Linked DNA regions of Homo sapiens: regions 1 and 2 are each linked to region 3. The links come from fine-mapping of genetic effects on gene expression. A gene starts in region 3. Each other region holds a variant in brackets. All regions are shown on one strand. Distances are from middle to middle. Region 1 overlaps LINC01839 (long intergenic non-protein coding RNA 1839). Region 2 has its middle 15 kb from the start of LINC01839. Region 3 holds the start of CHRD (chordin).

Evidence for each region.
Region 1: its variant is fine-mapped to the expression of CHRD in cerebellum (GTEx, PIP above 0.99). The same link has a PIP of 0.9 or more in cerebellar hemisphere.
Region 2: its variant is fine-mapped to the expression of CHRD in fibroblasts (GTEx, PIP above 0.99).

What each region holds. Positions count from the first base shown.
Region 1 is chr3:184,498,890-184,509,133 of GRCh38, forward strand. It overlaps LINC01839 (long intergenic non-protein coding RNA 1839), which reads left to right. Exons shown (of 8, transcript XR_924788.3): 3 at 4,871-4,998; 4 at 5,547-6,290; 5 at 8,546-9,514; 6 at 9,637-9,810. It also overlaps the pseudogene TEDDM3P. Among named protein-coding and RNA genes, the nearest start is that of LINC01839, 28 kb to the left of the region's middle. The variant C/T (reference allele first, on the strand shown) is at 4,878.
Region 2 is chr3:184,455,309-184,465,552 of GRCh38, forward strand. No RefSeq gene overlaps it. Among named protein-coding and RNA genes, the nearest start is that of LINC01839, 15 kb to the right of the region's middle. The variant A/G (reference allele first, on the strand shown) is at 4,272.
Region 3 is chr3:184,376,599-184,385,652 of GRCh38, forward strand. CHRD (chordin) reads left to right here and starts at 3,456. Exons shown (of 23, transcript NM_003741.4): 1 at 3,456-3,868; 2 at 4,094-4,197; 3 at 4,637-4,766; 4 at 4,898-5,026; 5 at 5,118-5,217; 6 at 5,335-5,422; 7 at 5,791-5,932; 8 at 6,036-6,176; 9 at 6,258-6,340; 10 at 6,418-6,565; 11 at 6,714-6,820; 12 at 6,925-7,044; 13 at 7,939-8,095; 14 at 8,420-8,640. The coding sequence starts at 3,721. It overlaps THPO (thrombopoietin), which reads right to left and starts at 1,609. Exons shown (of 6, transcript NM_000460.4): 1 at 1,477-1,609.

The DNA.
Region 1 (10,244 bases), 120 kb after region 3:
CGGAGGTTGCAGTGAGCCGAGACCAAGTCACTGCACTCCAGCCTGGGTGACAGAGTGAGACTCCATCTCGAAAACAAACAAAAAACAAACATGAAAATTCCTCATACTGCCATACTGAGAGTGAATAAAAAACAGAGAAATTGAGAAAACAGAAGACTTCACCATTATGGAAAAACGGACCCCCTGTCTTTCACACATTGAGAGACTTCATTTGCAGGCATACCCGTGCATACCGTAGTCCTGCCCCATCTAAGAAATATGGTGTCTACGGGCGCTCTTTCCTCTCTGTCTACTTCCTCAATTCATTTCCTCCTCTTGGATCCTGAAAACTGCCAGAAAAAAGCAGCACTCCTGTTCTCATTTCATGTATGTGCTTGGCCAGAATAATGAGAGAGAAAAGAGACAGACCTGGAGAGAAGAGAATGATGGATGAGAAGTTACCCCAGGGGCTGGCAGGTTTATTTGGGAACGAGAAAGATGGCTCCCGAGATAGAAGCTAGCCTGTGAATTCTAAGGCATTTCCATGCTATGCGTGCTGTGGGCACCCTTGAAACTCTCATTACAAAAGGCATAGAACAAAGACAGTTTCTGTACCTAGACGCCTCCATCCAGCAGCACAGCCTCTGCCCTGAGCTTCTCAAGCTCTTCACCACTGGAATTGGTGAGGCACGGCTAGTACCTGGCCCCTGGTAACGCTGTCCAGGAGGAGCAGTGACGGTGCCAGAGGCTGCAGAGGCCATAGACAGCAGCCAGCACGGCAGCCCCCAAGCCCAGGTGCCAGGAGAAGAAGCGAGTGAGGAAGGCAAGGTCCATGGGGTTCTCCACCTGCAGGGCTGTCCGGAGGGAGGCGCAAACATCAGCACACACAGCTGCAGCATCCAGTTGCTGAGCCCCAGCCCCACCCAGGTCTTGAGCACCCAGAGCTGGGGCTGGTCAGGGACCCAGACCTTGATGGTGAGCACCAGGGAGACCAGGAAGGGGGGCACGCTGAAGAGCTCACGCACACGGATCTCCAGGGTGCCCTTGTTCTCAATGTGGGCTGCCATCAGTAGTGCCAGCACATAGGAGCCCAAGGCCTTGACTGCTTGCTCTAGCTTCATATTCTACCATTCCTGACACGACTGGCTTACAATGTCCACCACGCCAGTGAGCATAAAGAACTCGTACATGGTGATGTGCTGCCAGCTGTCCTTGAACACGAATGGCCACCGCGGATCCTCCCAGTCTACCACCATCAGCCGATTTACTCCAGACGGGTAGAATAACTTGGGTAAGATGCCAGCCAGGGTGATGACCACCTTCACCACACCTTCTAGTGGCACCAGCTACCACCACCTGTGTCCTCACTTCTCCCTGGAGGGCAGAGGGAGTTTGAGGAGCCTCTGTTCCTGTAGCAGGGCCAGAGACACCAGCACCATATAGTAGAGTGAGTAGAGAAGGAAGAACATTGCTGGCAGCAGGTGTCCCTCGAGGGTGCCCATGGCTTTAGTGTGTGTGTTGGGGCCAACGGGGCGAGAGCTGGTAGATGAGCAGCAACCTCACACACACATGACCGGCATCCTCACAGGCAGGAGTGGCTGCCTCTGAACCACGGAGAGATCATGCTGACGAGCCCCACCCCTGCCTCCCACACACAGAAAGGAATAGGTCTTGTTGCAGAAACCTGAGCCACACCCCAGGGTGGGACGCCTTTAAGAGGGTCCTCCAGGGTGGGACCGCTGCAGCCACCTTGCTCTGCTCCTTACTTAAATCGGCTAGGCCCAGCATTTCAATCTGTGCACCTCACTGCAGATGTCAGTTTCACAGATGCTGATTCAGCGTTTCTTTCACCAGCCCCTCTGCCACAGCGCCCTACCCCTGCAGAGAGGAAACAAAGAGAGTGAAGGAGCTCCAGCAAAGAGGAGTAGGGCTGACTCTCAGGCTGACTTTTCTCTCAGTGCTTGGCACAGTACATACTTTTCTCTCATTTAACAACTCTATGAGGGAGGTGTTATTAGGTGAAATTTTACAAGTGAAATGAAGGTCCAGAGCGGTGCAGAGACATGCACAAAGTGGTCCATCTGCCAGCTGGCACAGCAGAGCCAGGACGTGGACCCGGGTCTGCTCATCCAACAAAGCCTGAAGTTTATGCACAGCAAAACTACTGACATTCACTTCCAACCCCGTAATCATGACTGTGGGGAATTTACTTGGTCTTCTTGAGTCTCAGCTTCCTGATGTGTAGAATGGGAATAATAATTACTTCATAGATTTGTTATGAGAATTAAATGGGATTATATATAAAGTGTCTGATACATAGTGAATAATGATGGTGATTATGAATAATTTAGCTTTTTTTTTTTTTTTTTGAGATGGAGTCTGGCTCTGTCACCCAGGCTGGAGTGCAGTGGCACGATCTTGGCTCACTGCAAGCTCCGCTTCTTGGGTTCACACCATTCTCCTGCCTCAGCCTCCTGAGTAGCTGGGACTACAGACGCCCGCCACCGTGCCCAGCTAATTTTTGTATTTTTAGTAGAGACGGGGTTTCACCGTGTTAGCCAGGATGGTCTCGACCTCCTGACCTCTTGATCCCCCCACCTCGGCCTCCCAAAGTGTTGGGATTACAGGCGTGAGCCACTGCGCCCGGCCCTCCTATTGTTATTACTAGCAGTCCTTGCTAAATTTCTATGATCCTGAAGTTTTTAAAGTATTTCTTTGAATGATACCAAAGCAAGAGTCATAAAGAAAAACAGTAACATATTTAATTATATTAAAAATTGTAAGTTATTTATTAATAAAAATTAAACATGTACTGATTAAAATTACAGTTTAAAATTTTCAAAAGAAAAACAAAATAAAATTGTGCCCCATATGTAAGAAAGTGTTAGTCTCCTTACAACATAGAAAGCACTTACAAAGAAAAAAGTTAAAAATATGGCCAGGTGCCGTGGCTCACACCTGTAACACCAGCACTTTGGGAGGCCAAGGAGGGCAGACCGCTAGGTCAGGTATTCGAGACTAGCATGGCCAACATGGTCAAATCTTGTCTCTACTAAAAATACAAAAATTAGCCAGGCATGGTGGTGCGTGCCTATTATCTCAGCTACTTGGGAGGCTGAGGCAGGAGAATTGCTTGAACCCAGGAGGCAGAAGTTGCAGTGAGCTGAGATCATGCCACTGCACTACAGCCTAGGTGACAGAGCAAGACTCCATTTAAAAAATAATAAAAAATAAAAAATAAATAAACACCTCAGGAGAAAAATGGACAAAGGACAGAAAGTGGCTATTCGTGCCAAGGGAACTATAGATGCCTCATAAACATGAAAGGCAAAAAAATTGGGGGCTGTAGCATTCTTGGTTGACAGGCTTTCCTTTTTCTTTTAGCACTTTGAATATATCAGCCCCCTGCCTTCCGGTCTCCAAACTTTCTGATGAGAAATCTGCTAGTAATCTTATTGAGGATCCCTTGTATATGACAAGTGGCTTCCCTCTTGCTGCTTTCAAGAGTCGCTCTTTGTCTTTGTCTTTTGATGGTTTAATGATGATGTACCTTAATGTAGATCTCTAAGTTCATCCTACTTGTTGAACTTCTTAGATATTTATGTTCATGTCTTTCATCAAATTTGGAATGTTTTCAGCTATTTCCTTAAATACTCTCTCTGCCCTTCTCTCTCTCTTCTCCACTGGCTGCGGCAAGGACTTTTCATTAACACAGAGACATAGAATTGCTGCTACAGAGGAGGTAGAGAGGTGTGGCTGAAATCCAGAGGAGGTAGATAGGTGTGGCTGAAATCCAGAGGAGACAGAGGGGTGTGGCTGAAATCCAGAGGAGGTAGAGAGGCGTGGATGAAATCCAGAGGAGGTAGAGAGGTGTGGCTGAAATCCAGAGGAGACAGAGGGGTGTGGCTGAAATCCAGAGGAGGTAGAGAGGCGTGGATGAAATCCAGAGGAGGTAGATAGGTGTGGCCAAAATCCAGAGGAGACAGAGGGGTGTGGCTGAAATCCAGAGGAGGTAGAGAGGCGTGGATGAAATCCAGAGGAGGTAGAGAGGTGTGGCTGAAATCCAGAGGAGGTAGAGAGGCGTGACTGAAATCCAGAGGAGGTAGAGAGGCGTGGATGAAATCCAGAGGAGGTAGAGAGGTGTGGCTGAAATCCAGAGGACGTAGAGAGGTGTGGCTGAAATCCAGAGGAGGTAGAGAGGTGTGGCCAAAATCCAGAGGAGGTAGAGAGGTGTGGCTGAAATCCAGAGGAGGTAGAGAGGTGTGGCCGAAATCCAGAGGAGGCAGAGGGGTGTGGCCGAAATCCAGGTGCTTCACCAGGTTGTTTTCTTAGGCTTGGGTCCAGTGGTAGTTAAAGAAAGACACTTCCATAATCCTAAGTAGGCATGATCACTAAAGGATATTTGATTTATTTATTTATTCAATAATAAAACTTCCAAATTCCAGACATTTTTCTAGGCCCCGAGGATACAATAATGAAAAAGACAGGGAAGAAACAAATAAATGCACAATTAAAAAAGAAAAAATGATAGAGAATGATAAATAATAATGGCAAACTCCCTCCTCCCTGCCAAAAAATACTTAAATTAAGGCTATTGAAATAGCGAGTAGCTCTTTCAGATTGAACCATCAGAGACGATGTCTAAGAAAGTAACATTTAATCCAAGATTAAATTAGCATTAGAGGCCAGCCATACCATATCCGACTGCATGTGTGAGTCACTCCATCACATAAAAAACAAAGGAGGAGCTCAATAAAAGCCAAGACCCTGATAACCTCTGTTGATGGAATATGTTATTTTTAATATTTTCAGTGTTTTGGTCTGTTTTGTGCTGCTATAACAGAATGCCTGAGACTGGGTAATTTATAAAGAACAGAAATTTATTTCTTAGAGTTCTT[C/T]GGGCTGGGAAGTCCAAGATCAAGGCACTACCATGTGATGCAGGCAGAAGGTGGAAGGACAAAAGGGAAGAAACCTCATGTCCCCACATGGTGGAAAAGCAGAAGTGCAAGAGAGAACCAGGTTTTTCTGTCAAGCACCTTTATAAGGATTCTTAATCCCATTCATGAGGAGTATCACGGACTAGTCACCTCTTAAAGGCCCCATCTCTTAATACTATCACACTGGCAAAAGCTGAATTTTGGAGGGGACACATTCAAATCATAACATTCAGTAATTGTCTTCCTAGCCAGAATCTGATTTTGTTTTTTGCCATGATGAACCATAGTGGGGCACTCCAGGTAATAAGGCAATGGGGTAATGTATCTTTCCTTATCCATCTTTTTCTGCATTTTGCAATGAATAAGTATTACCTTTGTAATTAGGGACTATGTGAAAACTTGAAATCAATGACACAATTATTTAATGCATGGAGAAGTAAGTAGGATATGAAGACACCAAAATGTGGCAATTTCTGTCTACGCTTTTTTGTATTTTTCAAATGTTCTGAAACTTTATTAATTTTATTTTTATGGTAAAATTATTAATATGAAACTCTTTATAAGAGCTCTTCTCAGTCATCAAAGTATTTCTTTTCTTTTTACTTTTTTTTTTTTTTTTTTTTGAGACAGGATCTTACTTTGTCACCCAGGCTGGAATGCAGTGGCCCAATCATGGCTTACTGCAGCCTCGACCTCCTGCACTCAAGCGATCCTCCCACCTCAGCGTCTGGAGTAGCTGGGACCACAGGCGTGTGCCATCACACCTTACAAATTTTTGTGTATTTTGTACAGATGGGGCTTCACCATGTTGCTCAGGCTGGTCTCAAACTCCTGGGCTAAAACAATCTGTCTGCCTCAGCCTTCCAAAGTGCTGAGATTACAGGCATGAGCCACAGTGCCTGGCCAAAGTATTTCTTTATACATGTGTCTTTATGTGTATGATTATTTATATACCTATATATATAATACTGACAACTGTTAAAGATACCAAAAAGCACAAAGACGAGTAAAAAGAGTGAATATAACACAACAAATGCCAACTCAGAGAGAACAAGTGTTAACATTTTGTCCTGCTTGTTTCCAGGGTTTTAAAAAACTAAGTAAATAAAACATTCAAATTCTTCTGATCCCATTCCCATACCTCCCTTCCTCCACTGGGAGAACCAATATCATGATTTGGTGTGGATCTTTCTTATCATTTTGTCACTTTGTATACATTTGCCTGTCTCTTTATCTGTTTATCTACCTACCTATCTATCTGCCTATCATCTATCTATCTGATCATTCTCTGTATATTTCTAATTCTGCAGAAAGAAGGAACAGAAGGAGCTCTTGCTTGAGTAAGGCACTGGTCATGCCTCAATTAGAACCCATGTAAGTGAAGTTCCTTTGTAATGAAGTCAGTGCAGTTAAATGAAAAAAAGTTGGGGGGGGGGCGAAATTCAAGAATCATGCAAAAATACAGTTGATGGGAACCATATGTCCGAGTGGCCGCATTCCAATGAACAAGGCAAATCCACAGATGTGCTGGTCGTAAATTCCTCCCAAATCCTATTGTGTCCACAAGGTAACTAAAGGTAAATAGGACTAACCTTTATCACTGCTCCCTAAAAAGCGGCCATGGGTCCCAGTGTGTCTGTCTCTCCCCATCTCCCAAATCAGCAGTCACTTACCATCTGCTACTCTGAGCCCTCCCAGTTTCCAGAAGGAGACAGTGTCTCATAATAATCACTTACCCCTCTTGACTGGTAGATTAATCTTTAGCACATGAGTTTCAGTCGCTGTGATACCCGAATACGTCATTTTAAGCCTCTCATCTCCAGTTGAAGAAGGAGAACCCTTAGCTTTACCCACAGCTAAAGGAATCTGGGGAATCAGCCAGCAGGTGCTGAGGTGTGTTTGTCATGGGGGAGGGGTTCTTGAGTGCAAATCTGATTTAGATCTTCTGACCCATGGGTGCCCATTAGAATCACCGGTGAGCTTTTAAAAATAACAGCAATTACTTGGGCTTTCCCCCCAGAAATTCTGATTTAATTAGCTTGGGGTTGGGCTTGGGCATTCATGCTTTTAAAACTTCCCCTGCAGACACTAAAGGAAAAATACTGTATGATTCCATTTATATAGGGTACCCAGAGTAGTCAAATTCATAGAGGAAGAAAATAGATTGGTGGTTGCCAGGGGGCTGAGTAGAAGGGAGTGAATTGTGGCCTAATGTACAGAGTTTCAGTCTGGGAAGATGGAAGAGTTCTGAAGACGGACGATGATGATGATTGCACAGCAATGGTGATGTATTTAATGCCAATGAACTGTATACCTAATAGTGGTAAAAGTGGTCAGTTTTATGTCACATATATTTCACCACACTAAACAAAGTGAAGTATGTAAGCTCCTGTGGTGATTCTACTGTGAAATCCTGTCCAGAGCTGCCTTATACTACCTGTGATGACTGTTGAAAGGGAGGGTCCTCTTGATGAGTTGGGTCCTCCTTCTTCCCACCCTGCTGCCCCGGGAGGCTCAGCTGAGTGCCCTTCTGGTTTCAGCTTTTGCTGCTATTGGAGGGCAAAGGAGTTCACTTTTCTTTTAAGATTTGGCCTGTCAGCTGCCCAAGACTGGTTCTGGAAACCCTCTCGATGCCCCCTGTAAGCGTCTCTGCATCCAGTAGCAACTTTTCACAATAGAGAGTAGAATGGCAATCTCATACCAGAAGGGGTTTTATTTATTCTCTGGTCTCTTCTGATATCTATGGCTGGAGCCTCCTCCCCTTCCTCTCTTTTTCCAGACTTACGCATGCTTCGTTTGATTCAATCACATAATCTGACTCATGAAGGTATAAATCATGCAAGAATAACCAGCCAGTTAATGTCAAATAGGGACGACCATATGTCCATGGGGATGACTAGTTCTTTGTATCTTTTCCAGTGAAATGTGCTTATCTAGTTTATAATTCCATTGTTAGTGGAAAGTATATGAATTTGACTCAGCCCCTGTCCTACCTTCTGAGGGGAAGTCCAATGCTCTGCCCAATGTTCCCCCTCCCGTCTGGCTTGGAGTGTCTGAATCTGCTCAAGCGGTGCCTTACTTGCAAACACATTCTGCAGAAGCTCCCTTTGCTCCGTTTCTGCACTGACCCAGATGGGAGACTCGGCTCCTTTCCACGGATTGTCACCTCTAATATCTGGAAAACAAAACAAAACAAAGCAAAACAAAAACACATGCAAAAGACATTTGTTCGCTCAGCAGGCTTTATTATGTGTATGAGGATGATGATATCATCCCAAAGCAAAGTTCTCAATATTGGGTATTCAATATTTCTGTTCTTAAAAGTCCTTCAGTAATATCAGATGATTCTATTCCTATAAAGTCCCCAACTGGTGAAAGGAAGCTAAGGTATTAGAAGTCAGGTGAGTGGTTAGCATGGTGGGGGAGTGACTGAGTGGAAGCATTAGGGGGCTTCTGGTGTTCTAGTAGAGTTCAATTTCTTGATTAGATGCTAGTTACACATGTGATTTTGGAAAAGCCACTGAACTCGTGATTTGTGCTCTTCTCTGTATTTATGTTATGCTTCAATAATAAAGTTTATGTTAAAAACTAAAGAAAAGATAAGAAGTCTCCAACCACCTCATGTGCAGGCAGGTTACTCAACTCTGCAGAGAGGGACAGAAGGGTCTTCTACCAACCCAGCATCTGCACCCCTGAAGTCAGACATGGCTGTGGTCGCTTTTGGGTTTTGACCTGTTAGCAATGTTTTCAAAAAGGACCAAGAGAATGCAGGCATACAAGCACTTTGTGGATGGTGGGCCCTGTGCAGATTTGGCCTGTCACAAACCCTGCTTCATACACATCCTCATAGCAATCACAGCAGTGAAAACTGGGAAGACTCGCCCAGGTGCCCGCTCCCCACTGGCCCGCCCTTACTCCCTCCACCTCTCCACAGCAACTCATCCTTTGGACCACCCAAACCTGTCAGAAGAGTGTCTCCGTCTCCATTTTTGACTTTCCAGAGAGGTCTGAAGCCACCTCCACACAGTGAGGTGGCAGACTTGTGGACAGGTCCTGAAGCCATACCAGGAGCTGACCAGCCCCAGAAAATGAGGACATGGCTGCAGGGATAGAAAGCCAAACTGTGGGTCAAGGGGACTTCAGCCTGTCCATCTGGGGGCACGCTTAAAGGTCTATGATGGGGCCAAAAAGAAAGGTGCAGGCTAAGGACAGAAGGACAGCTCAGCCTGAACAGCCCCATCCTGCAGCCCACCCCAGCCCTGAGCCTCTGGAACTCTATCACTGCATCCTGGGGCACCTGCCCCCCAAGCCCCCACCCCAGGAAGAGTATCTATGCTGTCAGAGGCTGCAGACGGTGCCAGCAGAAGGTGGAGAGGAAGCTTGGGGCCTTTGGTGGGTGGGACGCATCAACACACACAGCCGCAGCAGCTGCACATAGATCAACAGGCCATCCGTGCCTCGAACACCTACATCAACGGCCAAGGCCTTGGCCACCCTGCCCAGCTCCGTGCACCGCTAGTTGCCTTGGTGGATCACAGCCGCTCCACGCTCCACAGGAAGAATCCCAAACCCGGTGACCGGCTGCCCCAGCATTCCAAGTAAGACCAGTTCCTCAAGGTCCTCCCTGTTCTTCCTCACCATCTGTTTTGTCCTTGGAGGATGAAAGAACTTAGCAAGGATGATATTAAGGAGACAACCGCTTTCTCTGTCTCTTCCACAGGTACCTGCTGCTGATACCTCTACCCTTGGTTAGACACAATTCCAGCAGGGCAGGACCACTTGCCCTGAGGAGAAGAGCCCAGGGACTCGTCACAGGCAGGGAACCACTGCCTCTTCTATCCTGCCTGGAGCATAACGGCGGTCCAATGAGTAGACAGGTGGACTCACCACTCAGGTAAGTGCTTCCCGGGGCAGCAGGAGGTGCCTCAATAATGGCATTTTGCCCTTGTGCCTTCAGTCACACCCGTCTGCTCTGCCCAGGCATAAAGCTGATACATGGGAATGGTGTGTGCCATGGCAATGAAGATCATCATTATGACCATGGTGCCCGCATGCCAGGACTCTGCGGCCTGGAACTACAAGTCCAGTCTGATTCACAGGAGCATCCACATTCTGACGCCTCTTAGCCCCCACCTGATCACAGAGGCTCTTAGGGTCTTGCAGAGTTTCCCTTCAGCACCTGCGCTGAGGGAGACTCTGGAATCTCACCGGCCCAAGAATCAGTCCTTGTGGCTGCTCTGGCAGTGGGTTGCTGGTCAGGTGCAAAGGTATTGCCCGTGCTGACGGCTGGGCACTGATCCCACACTCGCCACCCTCCACAGCTCCCAG
Region 2 (10,244 bases), 79 kb after region 3:
ACCATCACAACAAGTCTCAGCAGCCTTCATGTTAAATAGATCCTTCTGTGGGAGAGATGTCAGATGGCTCTAGATATATCTGAGTTTTCGCTCTAGAGAAGTCAGAAACTATACTGTATCTTACAGATATAGATATAGGGGATTTAAGGTTATGTAGTTGGGTTGATACCAGACATGATTTTTAAAATCCTTTTTCTTTCTTATTTAATTTATTTCTCACAACTCATGACCTAATCAAATATAGTTTCCATTTAAATTACAAATGACTTTTCATTAAAATTACAAAGCATATAATTTTTGCGCTAAATATAAAAACCTATCATTTTGAGCAGATTGCAAGGAACGCAAACATCCAGGGTCCTCAATGACCTTTCCTGCTGACCCTCTCAATTACTGCTGAATTGTTCATGGTTTGCACCAAGCTGGAGTTAATGTAACTATCTTACCCTTTCCATCCGACAGTGAAAGTGCTTAAAACCTTTCTGGGCCTTTAATTAGATTTGTCAACATACACACATGTTGCTGCAATTCTAATTATCCTAGAAAAACTAATACAAATCATGATAGCACTCCTATGTGCCAAGGCACTGTGCTAAGCACTTTACATATCTACTAACTCATTTAATTCTTCACAACACTCCCTTTGATCCCTCTTTTATAGATGAGCAAGTGAAGCACAAACCTGCCCAAATCATTGGTTAGCGGGGACCTCACCTGGGCTATTCTCTGCTAATTCTGGGGAAAGGTTTCCCATGCCTACCCTTCATGAGTTTCTGTATCCTTCCCCATCTGCAAGAAGAACATAGCTCCAAATATGCTACATCAGCTGGTGACTGTGTTTCAGTCACAATCTGGTTTTTTTTTTTCTGCCAACCTTTTCTTCTGAAAAATTCCTGATCCCATTTTAGAAGTGACCTGCCATGATGCCAACCACCTGGTGTCCTCTAGTGTGGGGACATCTGGCGCCTGGCTCACACCCAGAGGGAGTGAACCAAACCTTGGTGGGCTGCTAGGGGTGACACCCAGGCACATCCTTGGGGATCCTTGTCCCAGAAAAGGGCTCAGTCCAGGTTGGGCACCGTCAGGGGTCGTCAGGAAACAGCTGGGAGGATTTCATCAGATCCCCTCTTAGCACATGGTTGCAGCAGTTAATAATGAGAGGGAGAATTGGCTGGCCTGGAGGCCAGCAGAGTCTTCTGGAACTCTGGAGAGCCTCACCCCAAGGAACAGCCCAGTTTGGTCCATATGAAGGTCCTAGAAACCATAAGGTCTGCATTTGGAGCAGCAGTAGTAGAGGCAACGTTTTCTCTGAGCTCCTCCTGTCCTGAGAGGCAAGACCTGTCTTCCTACACCATGCCCCAGTCCCCGGCCCACTCACTGGGTCTTGGCTCTACCTTCTTGCTCCTTCTCTGTGCACTCCCTCACCCCCACTCCGTGCAGGGACCTGCCTGGAACAGACACTGGCTTTGAGTTCTTGACATCTAGTAAAGACAACCCATGAGCACGTAAAAGCCTCACAATACAGAGCAGGATTAATAAGAACAAAATGCAAAGCAAGTGGAGATCAAGGAGGAAGATATTCCCAGCTGGGGAGTCACAGCAGACCTCATAGAGGAGGGGGCGTTTGAATTGAACTGTGAAGGTCCAGACATTGCAAGAGGAGGGCCTGGTGTGGGAAATCACAAGAGGAGAATATGGTTCAGTGAGGCTGAAGCAAGGTGCACGATGAGTGGATGGCGCTGGACTGGCAGGTCTGGGCAACTTGGATAGGGCCTTAACTGTTGGACTACCCATCTCTATGGGGTTGCGAGCTCAAGCTCAGGGGTGAGAGATGGCCTGGACTGTTATCTCGTCTAATTTCTGTTACGTATAACAGAATACTTGAAACTGGGTAATTTATTTTAAAAAGGAATTTATTTCTTACAGTTATGAAGACTGAGAAGTCCAAGATCAAGGAGCCGGATCTGGCGAGAGCCTTCTTGTTGGTGGGGACTCTTTGCAGAGTCCTGAGGTGGCACAGGGCATCACATGGTGAGGGGCTGAGTGTGCTAGCTCAGGTGTCTCTTCCTCTTCTTATAAGGCCACCAGCCCCACTCCCATGATAACCCATGAATCCATTCATCCACAAATGGATTAATCCAGTCATAAGGGCAGAGCCTCATGACCCAGTCACTTCTTAAAGGCCCCACCTCTCAACACTGTCATTTGGAGATTAAGTTTCAACATGAGTTTAGGAGGGGATTAACATTCAAACCATAGCAGCAGGGACTGTAACAAGTGAGCTGTCTCCAGGGCCATGCCTGGCAGCCTCTATTGGGAGCCTATTTCTGTGCCCTCCCTTGCCGTGTGCATCAGGTGAATAGGGGTGAGGGATGTCTAATGTTGAAAGGGACCTGGGGTGGAGGAATAGATCACAGGTCAAGGGGAAGGGGAAATTGGAGGGGAGAAAGCATGTGTGTAGGTCTCTTCTGGGACCAGGTGAACAGCCAGCCAGATGCTCAAGTCAGAAACTAGGGCATCATCCTGGGCTCCTCCCTTCCTTCACTCCTGTATTAGTTTGTTTTCATGCTGCTAATAAAGACATACCTGAGACTGGGTAATTTATACAGAAAAGAGGTTTAATGGACTCACAGTTCCACATGGCTGGGGAGGCCTCACAATCATGGCGGAAGGCAAGGAGGAGCAAGTCACATCTTACATGGATGGCAGCAGGCAAAGAGAGAGCTTGTGCAGGGAAACTCCCCCTTATAAAACCATCGGATTTCATGAGACTTATTCACTATCACAAGAACAGCATGGGAAAGACCTGTCCCCATGATTCAATTACCTCCTACCGGGTCCCTCCCACAACATTCAAGAATTGTGGAAGCTACAATTCAAGATGAGATTTGGGGCCAGCGCAGTGGCTCACAGCCTGTAATCCCAGCACTTTGGGAGGCTGAGGCAGGTGGATCACCTGAGGTCAGGAGTTCGAGACCGGCCTGGCCAATGCTATCTCTACTAAAAATACAAAAATTAGCTAGGCATGGTGGTGCGTGCCTGTAATCCCAGCTACTCAGGAGGCTGAGGCATGAGAATCATTTGAACCTGGGAGGCAGATGTTGCAGTGAGCCAAGATTGTGCCACTCACTCCAGCCTGGGTGATGGAGCAAGACTCCATCTCAAAAAAAAAAATAAAAAGAAGATGAGATTTGGGTGGGGACACAGCCAAACCATATCAACCCCTCATGGTCAATTGCTCACTGTGTTCACCCAGTTCTACCTGCTATGGGGTTATTTGGACTTTCCTCTCCATTCCACCACCCCAACTTGGTTCTCTCCTGGACCATTGCAGCATCATCTTGACTCTTCCTCACTTCATCTCCTGGCTTTTCTCTTCCATAGAGAGGTCTTGTTAATATTCACATCTCATCATGTCATTTCCCTGATGAACATTCTTCAAGTTCCCTGTGTCAGCTGCAGGTGGAATCTGAACTTCTTTTTTTTTGAGACAGAATCTTGCTCTTGTTGCCCAGGCTGGAGTGCAATGGTGCAATCTTGGCTCACCGCAACCTCTGCCTCCCAGGTTCCAGCGATTCTCCTGCCTCAGCCTCCTGAGTACCTGGGATTATAGGCGTGCACCACCACACCTGGCTAATTTTTGTATTTTTTTAGTAGAGATGGGGTTTCTCCATATTGGTCAGGCTGGTCTCGAACTGCTGACCTCAGGTGATCCACCTGCCTCAGCCTCCCAAAGTGCTGGGATTACAGGCATGAGCCACCGTGCCCGGCCCAGAATCTGAACTTCTGTGGCCAGGCAGAAAAGGTCCTGTGTTACTCGTCTCCTTTATCATTCATGTCCATATTCTCCCATTTGCTAACATTTATGTTTCTGCTCCACTGGATTCTTTGGATTTTTCTAGAACATACCCATGCTTTGCATTGCCTTGGTCTTTGAATATTTGGTCCACTTTTCCTGCAAAGTCCCCTCTCACCTTATCTTCCTGGTAAACTTCCAGCCAACACCTCTTTACTAACCAGAGAAACATGGTTCAACTGTGCACAGGCTTGCACAGAAACTGTTCTCATATTGTCTTGTCATTGTCAATGTGGCAGAGATGCACCTTAGATACCTCTTTGAGAAAGGACTCACTGCCCAGCTGCCTGGCACGTGATGAGCTGATAGCTCCAGCTATAGACTCCTTTAGGGTCAACCTCTGCTTTCCAGTTGAGATCATATCCTTTGCAGGGTGGCCTCCCCAGTGATGACTAAGGCAGTGTTACAATGGCCT[A/G]GTCATTTCCTCCCAATGCTGGACTCCCAATGAACCATCTGCTCCGGAGCTTCCCACTGGGCAGTCAGAGACCTTAGCTAGTCTGCCTCCGAATCAGAGGGCTCTCTCTGCCCACTCTGGCTTCCGCCTCTTTCTTTTCACAAGTCCTACTCCCCAGTGAAAGTTTTGAATTCCTAACTCCATCTCAGCATCCATTTTGTTTTTTGTTTGTTTGTTTTTTTCCTTTTTTTTGTTGAGACGGAGTTTCACTTTTGTTGCCCAGACTGGAGTGCGGTGGTGCGATCTCCGCTTACTGCAACCTCTGCCTCCCAGGTTCAAGCGATTCTCCTGCCTCAGCCTCCTGAGTAGCTGGAATTACAAGCATGCACCACCATGCCTGGCTAATTTTTGTATTTTTAGTAGAGACGGGGTTTCACCACGTTGGCCAGGCTGATCTCGAACTCTGACCTCAGGTGATCCATCTGCCTCAGCCTCCCAAAGTGCTGGGATTACAGGTGTGAACCACTGCGCCTGGCTCTTTTTTTTTTTTTAGGATGGAGTTTCACTCTATTGCCCAGGCTGGAGTTCAATCTCGGCTCACCACAACCTCCACCTCCAGGGTTCAAGCAATTCTCCTGCCTCAGCCTCCCGAGTAGCTGGGATTACAGGTGCATGCCACCATGCCCAGCTAATTTTTGTATTTTTAGTAGAGATGGGGTTTCACCATGCTGGCCAGGCTGGTCCCGAACTCCTGACCTCGTGATCCACCCGCCTTGGCCTCTCATAGTGCTGGGATTACAGGTGTGACCCACCGTGCCGGGCCTATGGGTTTTCAATAGTGGTCCAAGAAAGTAGTTGGTAAGACGGGGTTTGGGGGCTGGATCACTCCACCACCAACTGGCAATGAGGCCACGCCCCAGGAGTTAAGTGAGCATGGAAAGTCCCCAGCACATGTTGGTGGCCCTATTGTTAAACATTTCACTGATGCTGACGTGGGAGAATGTACCAGTGAAGGGGAATGAACTGGCTTATGTGATAAGTCAGGCATTTGAAAGGTACACAGGGGAGAAAAACATTCTATACAATATGGATATTATATGATGTATAATATATATGAATATAGAATATATGAATTATAGATAGATACATGGAAATGAACAATTGCATTGGTGATCTACAGACACATAATGAAAAGCTGAGGGCAATTAACAAACAATTGAAAACTAAGTGTGAAAGCCAGAGGATTTCTTTGGCAGCTGATGAAGAATCCTTCATGTCCTCTGCTCGGTGAAGAAAAGGAACTGAAGATGAAGCCATGAGTTAATAGAGTGGCTGCACTCCAAAGATGGCTGAATGCTCTAGCGATTCAGATCTCTGGGACCCCGACACATGGGATGGGACCTCGAGGTGGGTGCCCCTGAACATTCTGAAGCCCTGAGCTTCTCTGGCTCTCAGAACCTGCAGAGGTGGCTCATCCCCTACACTTGAGAGTACTCCCTCCTCCTCTGTGTTGGGGGACAATGCAGAGGTCTTTTTTTTTTTTTTTTTTTTTTTGAGATGGAGTCTCACTCTGTCGCCTGGCTGGAGTGCAGTGGTGTGATCTCGGCTCACTGCAACCTCCGCCTCCTGGGTTCAAGCGATTCTCCTGCCTCAGTCTTCCTCAGTAGCTGGGACTACAGGCACGTGCCACCACGTCCAGCTAATTTTTGTATTTTTAATACAGGGTTTCACCATGTTGGTCAGGATGGTCTTGATCTCTTGAGCTTGTGATCCGCCCTCCTTGGCCTCCCAAAGCACTGGGATTACAGGCCTGAGCCATGGCACCCGGCCTGACAAGGCAGAGGTCTTTCCCCTACAAGGCAACAGGTGTCCCTAGGCAGCTGCCTTCACCTCATCCTCTGGCTGCTAGACTTAACTCCTGGGGTGTGGCCCTCATTGCCAGTGGGTAGCTAGACTTTACTACTGGGTTAAATCGTTGCGTAGTTTGCCTGGGGATATGCTAGTTGGATACAGGAGGAAAGGTGCTATATTCCAAAGGAGCTGTAAGATCTAGTCAACAGGTGCCAGCAGAGGCTGTGGGAGTACTTGTGGGCCTGGATTCTGAGAGCTTCATGGGACTGGAGAAGGGAGCTATAAGGCACAGGATTTAACCCCCTGGTAAGGACCCCAGGGAGGGTGCAAGATAACTGCTAGGGTGGTTCATTGAAGCCTGGACAAAGTGGCAGGTCAAGCTGAGTGAGGTTGAAATATCTGAATTGCCGGGGAAGAGGGCAGAGAAAGGGATCAAAAGCCTTGGGAAAGTGGGTGGGCATTTGGAATGGAGGCAGTATGTTAGGCAAAAGAGAATAGGATTCTATGGGGAGACAGGGGAACACACCATTTGCCACGGTCATGACTAGGTTGTTCAGTGTTGGCCCTCCCCTGCAGGCCAGGACTGATGCTGGGAGAGGCAGGCACAGAACTTGGTTTGCTGATTGTACTGGAGAGGATAGGGCTGGGGCAATAGAGAGCAGGGCGCAGCACTTAGCGGTCAGAAGACAGGGGTCAGAACAACTGTAGCAGCAGAGAAGGTCAGAGTGATAATTACAGAGGTTTGATGTTCAGACAGTTATGGAGATGGCTAAGAGAACACAGTGTCTCCAGTGGAAAAGTAGACAAGCAGCCCAAAGGGAACTGTTATGTATAGAAGTACAGTTGGCCCTCTGTATCCATAGATTCTGCATCTGTGGATTCAACCAATTGTGGGTGGAAAATATATATATATTTTAAATTTTGTGTGGCTGAGTGCAGTAGCTCACACCTGTAATCCCAGCACTTTGGGAGGCCGAGGCAGGAGGATTGCTGGAGACCAGGCATTCAAGATCAGCCTGGGCAACATGGTGAGACCCTGTTGCCACAAAAGATTGAAAACAAAAATTCATCTGCACCGAACATGTACAGACATTTTTTGTTCTTGTCATTATTCCCTTAAAAATACAGTATAACTACTATTTACATAGCATTTACATTATATTAGGTATTATAAGTACTCGGGATTATTTATTCAGGAGGATGTGTGTAGGTGTGTGCAAATACCGTGCCTTTTTTTTTTTCTTTTTTTGAAACAGAGTCTCACTCTGTCGCCCAGGCTAGAGTGTAGTGGCGTGATGTCAGCTCACTGCAACCTCCGCCTCCCAGGTTCCAGTGATTCTCCCGCCTCAGCCTCCCAAGTAACTGGGATTACAGGCGCCCACCACCACGCCCAGCTAATTTTTGTATTTTTAGTAGAGACGGGGTTTCACCATGTTGGCCAGGCTGGTCTCTAACTCCTGACCTCGAGATCCACCCACCTCGACCTCCCAAAGTGCTGGGATTACAGGCATGAGCCACCATGCCTGGCCAATACTGTGCCATTTTATTATCAGGGACTTGAGCATCCATGGATTTTGGCATCCATAGGGGTCCTGTAACCAATACTGCACAAATACCAAGGGACAACTGTATTCAAAAAAGACCAAAAATTAATAAGCAGGAGGCTGAGGGTAGTTGCCCCAATAAAGTCATGATCCCTTGCCCAGTGTCTGAACCTCAGCCAGTTTTCAGACTCAGGACCTATTGGCTGCAGAGGTGGTTGGAACCATAGGAGAATCCTGCAATATCATGGCAAGTATGCACTTTAATGATATCTGCAGTCCTTCCCCAAAAGGACCTTACATTTACCATAGTGCTATGTCCTGGGTAAGAGGGTAATACTCAGATTTTTTTTTTTTTTTTTTTTAGACAACGTCTTACTGTGTTGCCCAGGCTGGAGTGCAGTGGCGCGATCTTGGCTTACTGCAACCTCCATCTCCTGGGTTCAAGTGATTCTCCCACCTCAGCCTCTGGAGTAGCTGGGATTACAGGTGAGCACCACCACACCTGGCTAATTTTTGTATTTTTATTAGAGATGGGGTTTCACCATGTTGGCCAGGGTGGTCTTGAACTCCTGACCTCAAGTGATCCACCTACCTCTGCCTACCTAAGTCCTGGGATTACAGGCATGTGTCACCACGCCCAGCCAAGATAATATTCAGATATTTCAAGGACAGTTGGACACAGAGTCTGAGTTGATGTTGCTGTCCAGAGGCCTGAAGTGTTATCATGGTGCCTCTGTTAGTTTAGAGCATATGGAGTCCTGGCCAAAAACTCTGCTTACAGGGGGGTTATGATGTTCATAGACTCATCTGATGGCCTGTGGAACAGAGATTGACAAACTTGGTAGTTGGGGTAACCTCCACATTGGAACCTTTGCCTATAGGTTAAGTGCCATGAGAGCGGTAAAGCCCAGACACAATCCTCTGAAACTGCCACTGACCAGCCAGAATAAAAACACAAAACAGTAAAAAAACAGTATATCAAAAACAGTATCTATCACATTCTGAGGGGAAAGGTGGAAATGAATGCCATACTTAAGAATCTGAAGGCTGCAGAGATGCTGGTCCTCATCTTATCTTCACATAATCAACAGTCTGGCCCCTGTTCGTCGTAGTGATAAGTGAGCCCCATTTGGGTACCAAGACCTCTGACTTTGTGGAGCCCAGAGGTGCAGGGATGGGAAGCACGAGTTCACCCAGGGGGTCATTGGGAGTGATGGCAAATGAGCCACTCTTACTTTTTTTCTTAAGAAACTCACAGTCTACACTCCTGCTTTTTAACTCCTTTGTTCCTAGGTCCATCTGTTCTTCCTACTGAGGTTGTAGCAACATATAAAGGTTTCTGATCCAGTTAGCATTCTGTGCCCTGGAGGATGGTGCCTCCAAGCCAGCACTCCAACTGTGCCACCAACAAGTCATTCCAAAGAGCTAGCATGCCGGCAGCTTCTGATGGTGTGGCAGGTGAGACCACCAGTGATCTCATGATCATGGCCTTACTTTGCTGTAAAGGGAATTCCCTGGTCAGATGCTGCATTAACTACACGTCCTCATCTTTTGTATTCTTGGTGTTCTGGCATTTGGGATCTTGATCCTGCCTCTCTCAGGGCTAGCTAACTCCTAGAAATAGCAAACAACCTCCCTGCAAGCACGTCCTTGATAGGAAAACCAACCAATCCAAGTCCACATCCCCAACCGTGTCCTTTATCAAATTCTCATATATCAAGCCAATATTCCCCCGCCCTAAATCACCCCAGGGCCGTGTACCAAACAATTGGGGATCACTCTTTTTTTTTTTTTTTTTTTCAGACAGCGTCTTCCTCTTTTGCCCAGGCTGGAGTGCAGTGATGCGATCTCAGCTCACTGCAAGCTCCGCCTCCCGGGTTCACGTCATTCTCCTGCCTCAGCCTCCCGAGTAGCTGGGACTACAGGCGTCCGCCACCACGCCCAGCTAATTTTTTGTATTTTTAGTAGAGACAGGGTTTCACCGTGTTAGCCAGGATGGTTTCGATCTCCTGACCTCGTGATCCGCCCGCCTCGGCCTCCCAAAGTGCTGGGATTACAGGCGTGAGCCACCGCGCCCGGCAGGGATCACTCTTTATAGCCCAGGGCCTGCCAAAACGATTTCATCTCTCCAATCCTGGACTCAGCATACCTACCCTGCCTTGTCTGCTACTCTCCATGAGAACCCCCATAGAGGCTCCGGGCTGCGCTCTGCCCTCACCTCTCTTTTGCCTCCTGATCAATCCCAGTCCTTCTTCACGTGGCCGTGCATGGTGTGCTGTGCCTCCTGTTTCCAGGATCTGTGAGGATAGACTTCCTTCTTCATTACAGTCATTTCCACGTCTGCATATTTGGCCATATCTGGTTAATACGAATCCTGGGTACATTTGCATAACAGATGCTCTGTTGTGTGGGATGACATGCCTGTGAATCAGGCATTCCATAAGCCTTTGGATAGCAGTGCTGGTTGAGACCTTATGGGAAAGAAAGGCAAACTTATACCCAGAATAGATGTCTATTCTCGTGAGAAAAAACTGCTGACCTTCTAGGATAGAAGGGTTCCAGTGAAGACAACTTGCCACCATGTGGCTGGTTGGTCTCT
Region 3 (9,054 bases):
CTTTGGGAGTCCAAGGCGGGTGGATCACCTGAGGTCAGGAGTTCGCCACCAGCCTCACTAACATGGTGAAACCCCGGCTCTACGAAATACAAAAAAACTAGCAGGGTGTGGTGGTTCATGCCTGTAATCCAAGCTACTTGGGAGGCTGAGACAGGAGAATCGCTTGTACCTGGGAGGCGGAGGTTGTGGTGAGCCGAGATCGCACCATTGCACTCCAGCCTGGGCAATAAGAGTGAAACTCCGTCTCAAAAAAAAAAAAGAAAGAAAGAAAGAAAGAAAGAAAGCAAGAAAGCATATGGTGTCTCCTTTTTGTCAGGACTCCTCAGTGAATCGGACATGGATTTGGTGCCACCTACCCCTGCTGAGAGCAGCAGGACATGATATGTATACACACATATCTTAATTAGCCTTAAATTCTGAGCAACCTTGGTTGTTAGGTCAGAGAAAATCTGGGATGGGGATAGAGAAGGAAAGTATTGTGGCTTCAGCCTGGAGAAGAGAGTGGAAAATGGGATGCAGGGCCTGGGTGAGGAACTGGCAAACGGGCGCAATATGTTGAGGGGTAACTTCTGCGGTGGGGAGTGGGGCTGGGGAGGGGAACTGCACAAAGCTGTAACTGGGACCACTAGAGGTCAGGATTAAAAGGCGGTATGGGAGAAATTAACCTCTATTCTTTCCCTATCTACCCCCACACATAAAGCCACTGGAGCTTTTCTCTGGACTCCAAGTCCTGAAATACTCCATTATCTGAGGCCAAGAGATGGGCTAACAGTTCTGGGACTTCCTTCCTGAGACCAGCTGCCCAGGAACGGGCACCTGCTGGGTGATGCCCACCTTAGGGGCTTACCTTGTCTTAGGCGCCCACTAACATATCTGTCTCATAGCTCACACCTGCCTCCCTGCCCCCTTGGCAGAACCCCTTCCGGTTCCTTCACAGGACCCCCCACATGGCTTCCTCCTCCTTTCACAAGTTGTGCAAAGAGGCTTGCACCTGATTCAATATTGGGATTTCCTGTAGGTCTGTCAACATGAGTGGGCCCTCCTCCCATTACCCTCTCCTTGCGCCCTGGCTTGCCTGGCCCAGCTTCCCCAGCACCAGATTCAGAACCTTAAGCTAACGAGGAATGACCAGCTAAGAATGGGGATTGGGGCTGTGTCCATCTTACTACTGTGTTTGCTAAGCCCTAAGTGCAGCTCCCTCTCTTATTTTCTCCCTGGGCTCATGTCCCCTTTCCTTAGGGCCAGCCAGGGCTGTGCTGTATTCCACCAAGTAAGTGATCAGTCCCTCAGAAACCAGCACCCCACCCCCTACCCCTGCTCTGCCCTGCTCCTCCCATTCTGGGAAGGCTACACTCTTCTCGACAAAGGTCAGTGCCTGTAGGTTCCAGTTTGCCTGCCCCTCCCCCAGCTGGGAGCCCATTTCTCTTTGCTGTCCTTTCTACCCTCACATAACCCCACACCCTGCTGGCCACTCACCGGGTGGAGAAGGGCTCCAGGACCCAAGTGCACAGCAGGCAGCCCTCTGGGGAGCAGATGGGTAGGAAGACATGTGGCGGTGGGGCACAGCCCCTCCACAGCAGCAGGTCATACGCCTGCCTGGGCCACTTCTGCCCAATCAGAGAAGGGAGCCACCAGACACTGGTGAAGGCCCCCGGAAGTGACGCCTTCTCTTCCCTGGAGCCCCTGCCTGGACCAGGGTCCACTCCTCCACCCACACACACCACGGAGAAGATTTGGATAGGGGGATCCATCTTTTCCTGGACATGGGCAACCTGGGACCTGGAGGGGGACAGGAGCAGAAGTTTTTTTCCAGGAGGAATCTGGCAGGACATTTGTGTTGCTGGGGAAGAAGCACAGAGGTCTTGTTTAAGATTGGTGGGGTTTTCACTCCCTGGCTATCCAAATTTCTTTTCCCTGGACATCATACCTGCTGCTGAAATCCAACAGGATGCTTGCTTTCCTGCTTTTCTTTCTGTAATCCCCTAGGGAGTCCTATCTTGTCATTCCCCCTTTCGAAGTGGGAACACGGATATTGCCCACATGAGAGAAATCTCCTGTTATGGGTTGGTGTTATGGGGAAAGGGTTTGGACGGGTTGAGTGGACTGTCAGGTGCGGGGCACATGTATGTGCGCACACGTGCACTGGGTTAAGCCTGAGCTTAGGTGCTCGTCTGCTGGGGTCCAGTGGCTTAGATGGCTACACACACAGACCTCTGTGCCCAGGGCCCTCCTTTGCTTGTTCTGTCTCCGTCTTCCATCTCCTACCGTTCCACATGTGACAAGAGGAATAACCAGGCCCATGTGTCCCTGTCTTAGGAAAGACAGCTGCTGGACCTCCCCCGCAAATACCTCCCTGCTGGCCCCCCTTTTCCTTTGGCCCTGGCTCTAGCTCCTTTGCTTTCTTCCCAGTCCCAGTCTCCCCACAGTCTCTGTCCTCAGGGGCTTCCTGGCCTGACCTTGATCCCATCATCCCCCTGTCCCCCAGAACTTCCTCAGGCTCTCTCCTGTTCCTCCTCCCCAAGGATGGGCATGTCTGCTGAGAAGTGTGGCCTAGATCCTGGAATTTTCCCGTCCAGCCAGACGAGATGTCTCCCAAGATTAGGAAGGAGGGTGCTGGGATAGCTGGGAGGATAGTGGGTGTGTGTGGGAGGGAGAGACAGGAGACAGGGAGGCAGGCATGACCAGGGAACCAAGAGAAAGGAGGCTGGGAGTGGGCTGGAGAGGCAGAGGGTCCCTTGGGTGAAGGAAGGGGGTGAGAAAGCAAGAGGGGACTGTCGAATGCGCCTGAGGATAAGTTACAATGAGAGGGAGATACTGTCACTCCACAGAAGGGGGAATGCTGCCGGTTTCTGGCTAGGTCCCTGTCCTGGGTAACACAAGAATGAGGAGCGACCTCAGAGAGAAGGTAGGGAGGCAGGCTAGGCAGTGAGAGAGGGTGGTGAGGGTTTGGGGGGCGCTGTGGGCCCAGGCAGGGGGAGATCGGCTGATGGACCTTTCCTGTACGTTGTCATCTTTAAAGACAAGTCTTCATCCTTCGGGCGGAACCGGGTCCTCGCTCACAGAGCGGTCCAGGCCTCAGGCCTAGCCTCTGCCCCTCCCTAGCCTGAGGCTCCCTTCCTGGGCTGGACACCGACCTCCTGGTCCAGCCGCCCTGTGGCCGCCAGCAGCGGGGGGCTCCGGGCCCGCCTCTCCTCCCCCTCTTCGCGCCCCCTGGTCCCTCCCCTCCCCCTCCCCCGCTCCCCCTTCCCCTCCCGCCCCTCCCTCCTCCCCTGCCCGGTCCCAGCCCCTCCCTCCCCTCCCCCACCCGCGATCCGGGCCGCTGCTGCTGGGTCGGACCCCCCGGGCTCAGCCCGGCCCCTCGCCGAGCTGCCGCCGCCGCCCCGTTTGCTGAGGAGGAGGCCCCCGGCCGGGGCGTCGGGCGCGGGGCATAAAACGGGCCGGAGCCGGCGCCCGGGGCAGTAGAGCCGCGTACGGCCCGGGTCAGCGCCCGCCCGCCCGCGCTCCTCCCGGCCGCTCCTCCCGCCCCGCCCGGCCCGGCGCCGACTCTGCGGCCGCCCGACGAGCCCCTCGCGGCACTGCCCCGGCCCCGGCCCCGGCCCCGGCCCCCTCCCGCCGCACCGCCCCCGGCCCGGCCCTCCGCCCTCCGCACTCCCGCCTCCCTCCCTCCGCCCGCTCCCGCGCCCTCCTCCCTCCCTCCTCCCCAGCTGTCCCGTTCGCGTCATGCCGAGCCTCCCGGCCCCGCCGGCCCCGCTGCTGCTCCTCGGGCTGCTGCTGCTCGGCTCCCGGCCGGCCCGCGGCGCCGGCCCAGAGCCCCCCGTGCTGCCCATCCGTTCTGAGAAGGAGCCGCTGCCCGTTCGGGGAGCGGCAGGTAGGTGGGCGCCCGGGGGAGGCGCGGGCGGGGAGTCGGGCTCGGGGCGAGTCAGCGCCAGCCCGGAGGGGGCGCGGGGCGCAGGTGGCTCGGCGCGGCGGGCGGCCCGGAGGGTGGGCGGGGGCAGAAGGGCGCGGTGCCTGGGACCCGGGACCCGCGGGCAGCCCCCGGGGCGGCACACGGCGCGAGCTGGGCAGCGGCCTCCAGCCAAGCCCGTCCCCGCAGGCTGCACCTTCGGCGGGAAGGTCTATGCCTTGGACGAGACGTGGCACCCGGACCTAGGGGAGCCATTCGGGGTGATGCGCTGCGTGCTGTGCGCCTGCGAGGCGGTGAGTGCACCCCGCGGCCGGCCCGGGCCCTGGCGGGTGGGGAGCGCCGGGTCGCGCGGGCGTCGGAGTGGACTCGGAGCTGCTGAGAAGGAGCCCAGTCGGCAGATGTTGGGGATATTTTTCTGGTGGAGGAAGGGGAATCAGCCCCTCCAATTCTTAGGTGCTGTTACTGATCGCCCACTCTGTGTGAGGCTCTGTGCCAACTCCGTTTCGTTCCCTGCTCATCTAACTCTCATGGCAGCCTTGCTAGATAGAGAGTATTATTATCCCCATTTTCCAGACAGGGACCTTGAGGCCCAGAGAGATGAAGTAGCTTGTCTAGGGTCACGCAGCTTGTAAGTGGCAGAGCTGGCTGACTCTGCGGGACATCCTTGCCTGGGGGGGTCTCATCAGTTGGCATCTTGCACTCACTTGGGTTTCCCGCCTTTTCCGGGAGCAGCCTCAGTGGGGTCGCCGTACCAGGGGCCCTGGCAGGGTCAGCTGCAAGAACATCAAACCAGAGTGCCCAACCCCGGCCTGTGGGCAGCCGCGCCAGCTGCCGGGACACTGCTGCCAGACCTGCCCCCAGGGTAAGTCTTGCTCCGCCCTGCGGGGAGGGAGGCAGGGCCACGATACTAGGTCCCGGGCCACTTGGATGGGGCGTCGGACTGGCCTTTCCCATGGCCAGCTGAAGCCCGTGTTCTTACCCCCCCGCCCGCAGAGCGCAGCAGTTCGGAGCGGCAGCCGAGCGGCCTGTCCTTCGAGTATCCGCGGGACCCGGAGCATCGCAGTTATAGCGACCGCGGGGAGCCAGGCGCTGAGGAGCGGGCCCGTGGTGACGGCCACACGGGTAGGGGGCTGGCGAACAGCGGGGTTGTGGTTGAGGCTGGGCCACCAAAGCGGCGTTTGACAGTGCTCAGGCCATCTTCCTCCCGTCCCAGACTTCGTGGCGCTGCTGACAGGGCCGAGGTCGCAGGCGGTGGCACGAGCCCGAGTCTCGCTGCTGCGCTCTAGCCTCCGCTTCTCTATCTCCTACAGGCGGTGAGAAAGGGGAAGGAGCAAGGAGGGGTCAGCTGCCGGGGCCCGGGAGGGAAACTGGGAGAGCTGGGAGGGGCTGCTTTTGGCTCAGTCCGGCCTCACCCGACCTCTCATTCCCAGGCTGGACCGCCCTACCAGGATCCGCTTCTCAGACTCCAATGGCAGTGTCCTGTTTGAGCACCCTGCAGCCCCCACCCAAGATGGCCTGGTGAGATGATGCCATTTATGAGCACTTGCCCAGTCTGGGCACTGTGCCGAGAGCATGCTCTGCATTGCCTCCCGTGGTCCTCACCACAGCCCAGTGGGAGGAAGGCACTGACATTATGATGCCCATTTTACAGAAGGGGGAACTGAGGCTCAGTAGGATAATGTGATTTGTTCAAGGTCACACAGCTAGTAAGTGGTGCAGCCAGGATTGGAACCCAAGCATCTGGCTCCAGCGTTCTTTCTTAAGCTTCCTAGGGCACCCTGGAGGTTCCTTTCCATGTTCCTTTTTCATAAGCCCTGCCTGGGCATCCTAATTGGCCTAGCCTGCACAGTGTCTGAGCGTAGGGCCTTCTTGTCTCTCTGCTCCAGGTCTGTGGGGTGTGGCGGGCAGTGCCTCGGTTGTCTCTGCGGCTCCTTAGGGCAGAACAGCTGCATGTGGCACTTGTGACACTCACTCACCCTTCAGGGGAGGTCTGGGGGCCTCTCATCCGGCACCGGGCCCTGGCTGCAGGTAGGGAGCAAAGAGCCCCGGGCGTGAAGTTCTGAGTCTTCTCTATCACCCAGGAAAGGGGGGGAGGGTTTCTGACGGGCTCTCATCATCGTCCCTTCCCCAGAGACCTTCAGTGCCATCCTGACTCTAGAAGGCCCCCCACAGCAGGGCGTAGGGGGCATCACCCTGCTCACTCTCAGTGACACAGAGGACTCCTTGCATTTTTTGCTGCTCTTCCGAGGGCTGCTGGAACCCAGGAGTGGGGGTAAGTGGGATGGGGGCAAAACACGTGAGAAGGTTAGGGAGAGCACCTGTCTCAGAAAGGCCCACATGTGCGGCCTTGCAGGACTAACCCAGGTTCCCTTGAGGCTCCAGATTCTACACCAGGGGCAGCTACTGCGAGAACTTCAGGCCAATGTCTCAGCCCAGGTGAGTGGGGATCTGGCTCTCGCTGCCACCTGTCTTGGCCTCTTGCTATTGCCCATCACACCCTGCTCTGTCCCCAGGAACCAGGCTTTGCTGAGGTGCTGCCCAACCTGACAGTCCAGGAGATGGACTGGCTGGTGCTGGGGGAGCTGCAGATGGCCCTGGAGTGGGCAGGCAGGCCAGGGCTGCGCATCAGTGGACACATTGCTGCCAGGAAGAGCTGCGACGGTGAGGCGGGGGGGGGGCCTGGTGCGCCGGGCATGCACAACTGAGAGACACAGACAAGTGCCAGGGTGGGTGTGGGAGAGATCCTGTGGACTGGGGGTGTAAGCGGCCATGGGGTAAACCTAGCCTCACCTGTCTTGCCCCTCCGTAGTCCTGCAAAGTGTCCTTTGTGGGGCTGATGCCCTGATCCCAGTCCAGACGGGTGCTGCCGGCTCAGCCAGCCTCACGCTGCTAGGAAATGGCTCCCTGATCTATCAGGTAAGAGCCAGGGGCTGCAGAAGGTGGGGGAGGGGTGGCGTGGGCAGCAGGCCCCAGGCCTTTACTGCCTCTCCACTTTGCCCTCCTCCATCCCTGCCCATCAGGTGCAAGTGGTAGGGACAAGCAGTGAGGTGGTGGCCATGACACTGGAGACCAAGCCTCAGCGGAGGGATCAGCGCACTGTCCTGTGCCACATGGCTGGACTCCAGCCAGGAGGACACACGGTGAGGGCTCCAGGTGGAGCTGGACCCCAGGGCCCAATGCATGGGCTGTGGGAAGCCAGGTTGGATGAGCAGGGATGTTCATTATCATCCACTCACTCATGGGTTCTCCCACTCATTCATTTATTCATTTGACTTTTTTTTTTTTTTTTTTTTGAGATGGAGTCTGGCTCTGTCACCAGGCTGGAGTGCAGTGGTGTGATCTTGGCTTACTGCAACCTCTGCCTCCTGGGTTCAAGCGATTCTCCTGCCTCAGCCTCCCAAGTAGCTGGGACCACAGGTGTGCACCACCACACCCAGCTAATTTCTGTATTTTTAGTAGAGACGGGGTTTCACCGTGTTGGCCAGGATGGTCTTGATCTCTTGACCTCATGGTCCGCCCACTTCGGCCTCCCAAAGTGCTGGGATTACAGGCGAGAGCCACCGTGCCCGGCATGATTTGACATTTTTAGTGAGCCCCAGACTAGGGACTAGAGTACAAAGCAAATCATATGTGGCCCCTGTGCTTAGCAAGCTCACAGTCAAATGGGAGCATTGGACCTGGAGAACAGTGCCACAGGCCACATATTAGTAAATGTAATGGCAATGGTTGCTACTTATAGGGCCTTTCCATGTGCTAGGTGCTGCATTGGTGGCCTTACATAGTTTTTGGCTTTCACAGTATCCATTTGAGAGATGAGGAAGTGAAGACTTGGAGAAGTTAAGTTACTCTTGAAGGTTGTTACATAGCTAGGAAGCAGCAGGGGAGGGCCTTGAAACTGGGCCTGCCAGGTCCTTATCCTGTGTTTCTGGTGTGTGGAAGTGTGTGTGGGTGGAGTGGGGGCACAAAATGGTCCAAGACTTCAGAACCTTGGACTCGTGTGAGAGCTGAGAAGGCCTATCCTCCCCTGCCCCCAGGCCGTGGGTATCTGCCCTGGGCTGGGTGCCCGAGGGGCTCATATGCTGCTGCAGAATGAGCTCTTCCTGAACGTGGGCACCAAGGACTTCCCAGACGGAGAGCTTCGGGGGCACGTGGCTGCCCTGCCCTACTGTGGGCATAGCGCCCGCCATGACAGTGAGTGTCCTTAGGGGTCTGTCTGCCCTTTGGTTTCCTAGAACATTTGAGGGATGGTGGCAGACAGCCGGAGCCTGGTGTGTCTTTCTTTGTGCCTAAGCTCCGGTTGCCATCTGAAGGTGGGGACATATAGGGTGGCCCTGCTGGCGGACTCTTCCTGTTGCTGAGGTTCAAGGGTCTAAAACTTGCTGCTCTCCAGGCCCTGGACCTATGGACAGTGTCTTCCAGCTCGTGGAATGTGTGCTGGGGAGCTGGGAATGCTGGGTTTGAGGGCTTGCCCTAGGCCACCTTCTCACCTGTCATCTCTCCTCTGTCTGGACCCAGCGCTGCCCGTGCCCCTAGCAGGAGCCCTGGTGCTACCCCCTGTGAAGAGCCAAGCAGCAGGGCACGCCTGGCTTTCCTTGGATACCCACTGTCACCTGCACTATGAAGTGCTGCTGGCTGGGCTTGGTGGCTCAGAACAAGGCACTGTCACTGCCCACCTCCTTGGGCCTCCTGGAACGCCAGGGCCTCGGCGGCTGCTGAAGGGATTCTATGGCTCAGAGGTAAGGATGTGATGGTAGGCGGCAGCTTGGAACATTTCTGTTTTTTAGCTTGAAGGGCTGTGTGGGCCTGTGTTGGGGAAAGCAGAGAGCAGGCAGCCTGGTATAGAAGAGCTGGCATAAATAAAATAAATTAAACAGTGATTTGTAGGCTGGGTGCAGTGGCTCAAGCCTGTAATCCCAGCACTTTGGGAGGCCAGGTGGGTGGATCACCTGAGGTAGGAAGCTCAAGACTAGCCTGACCAACATGGAGAAACCCCATCTCTACTAAAAATACAAAATTAGCTGGGCGTGGTGGCACATGCCTATAATCCCAGCTACTCCAGAGGCTGAGGCAGGAGAATCGCTTGAACCTGGGAGGTGGAGGTTGCAGTGAGCCGAGATGGCGCCATTGCACTCCAGCCTGGACAGAAAGAG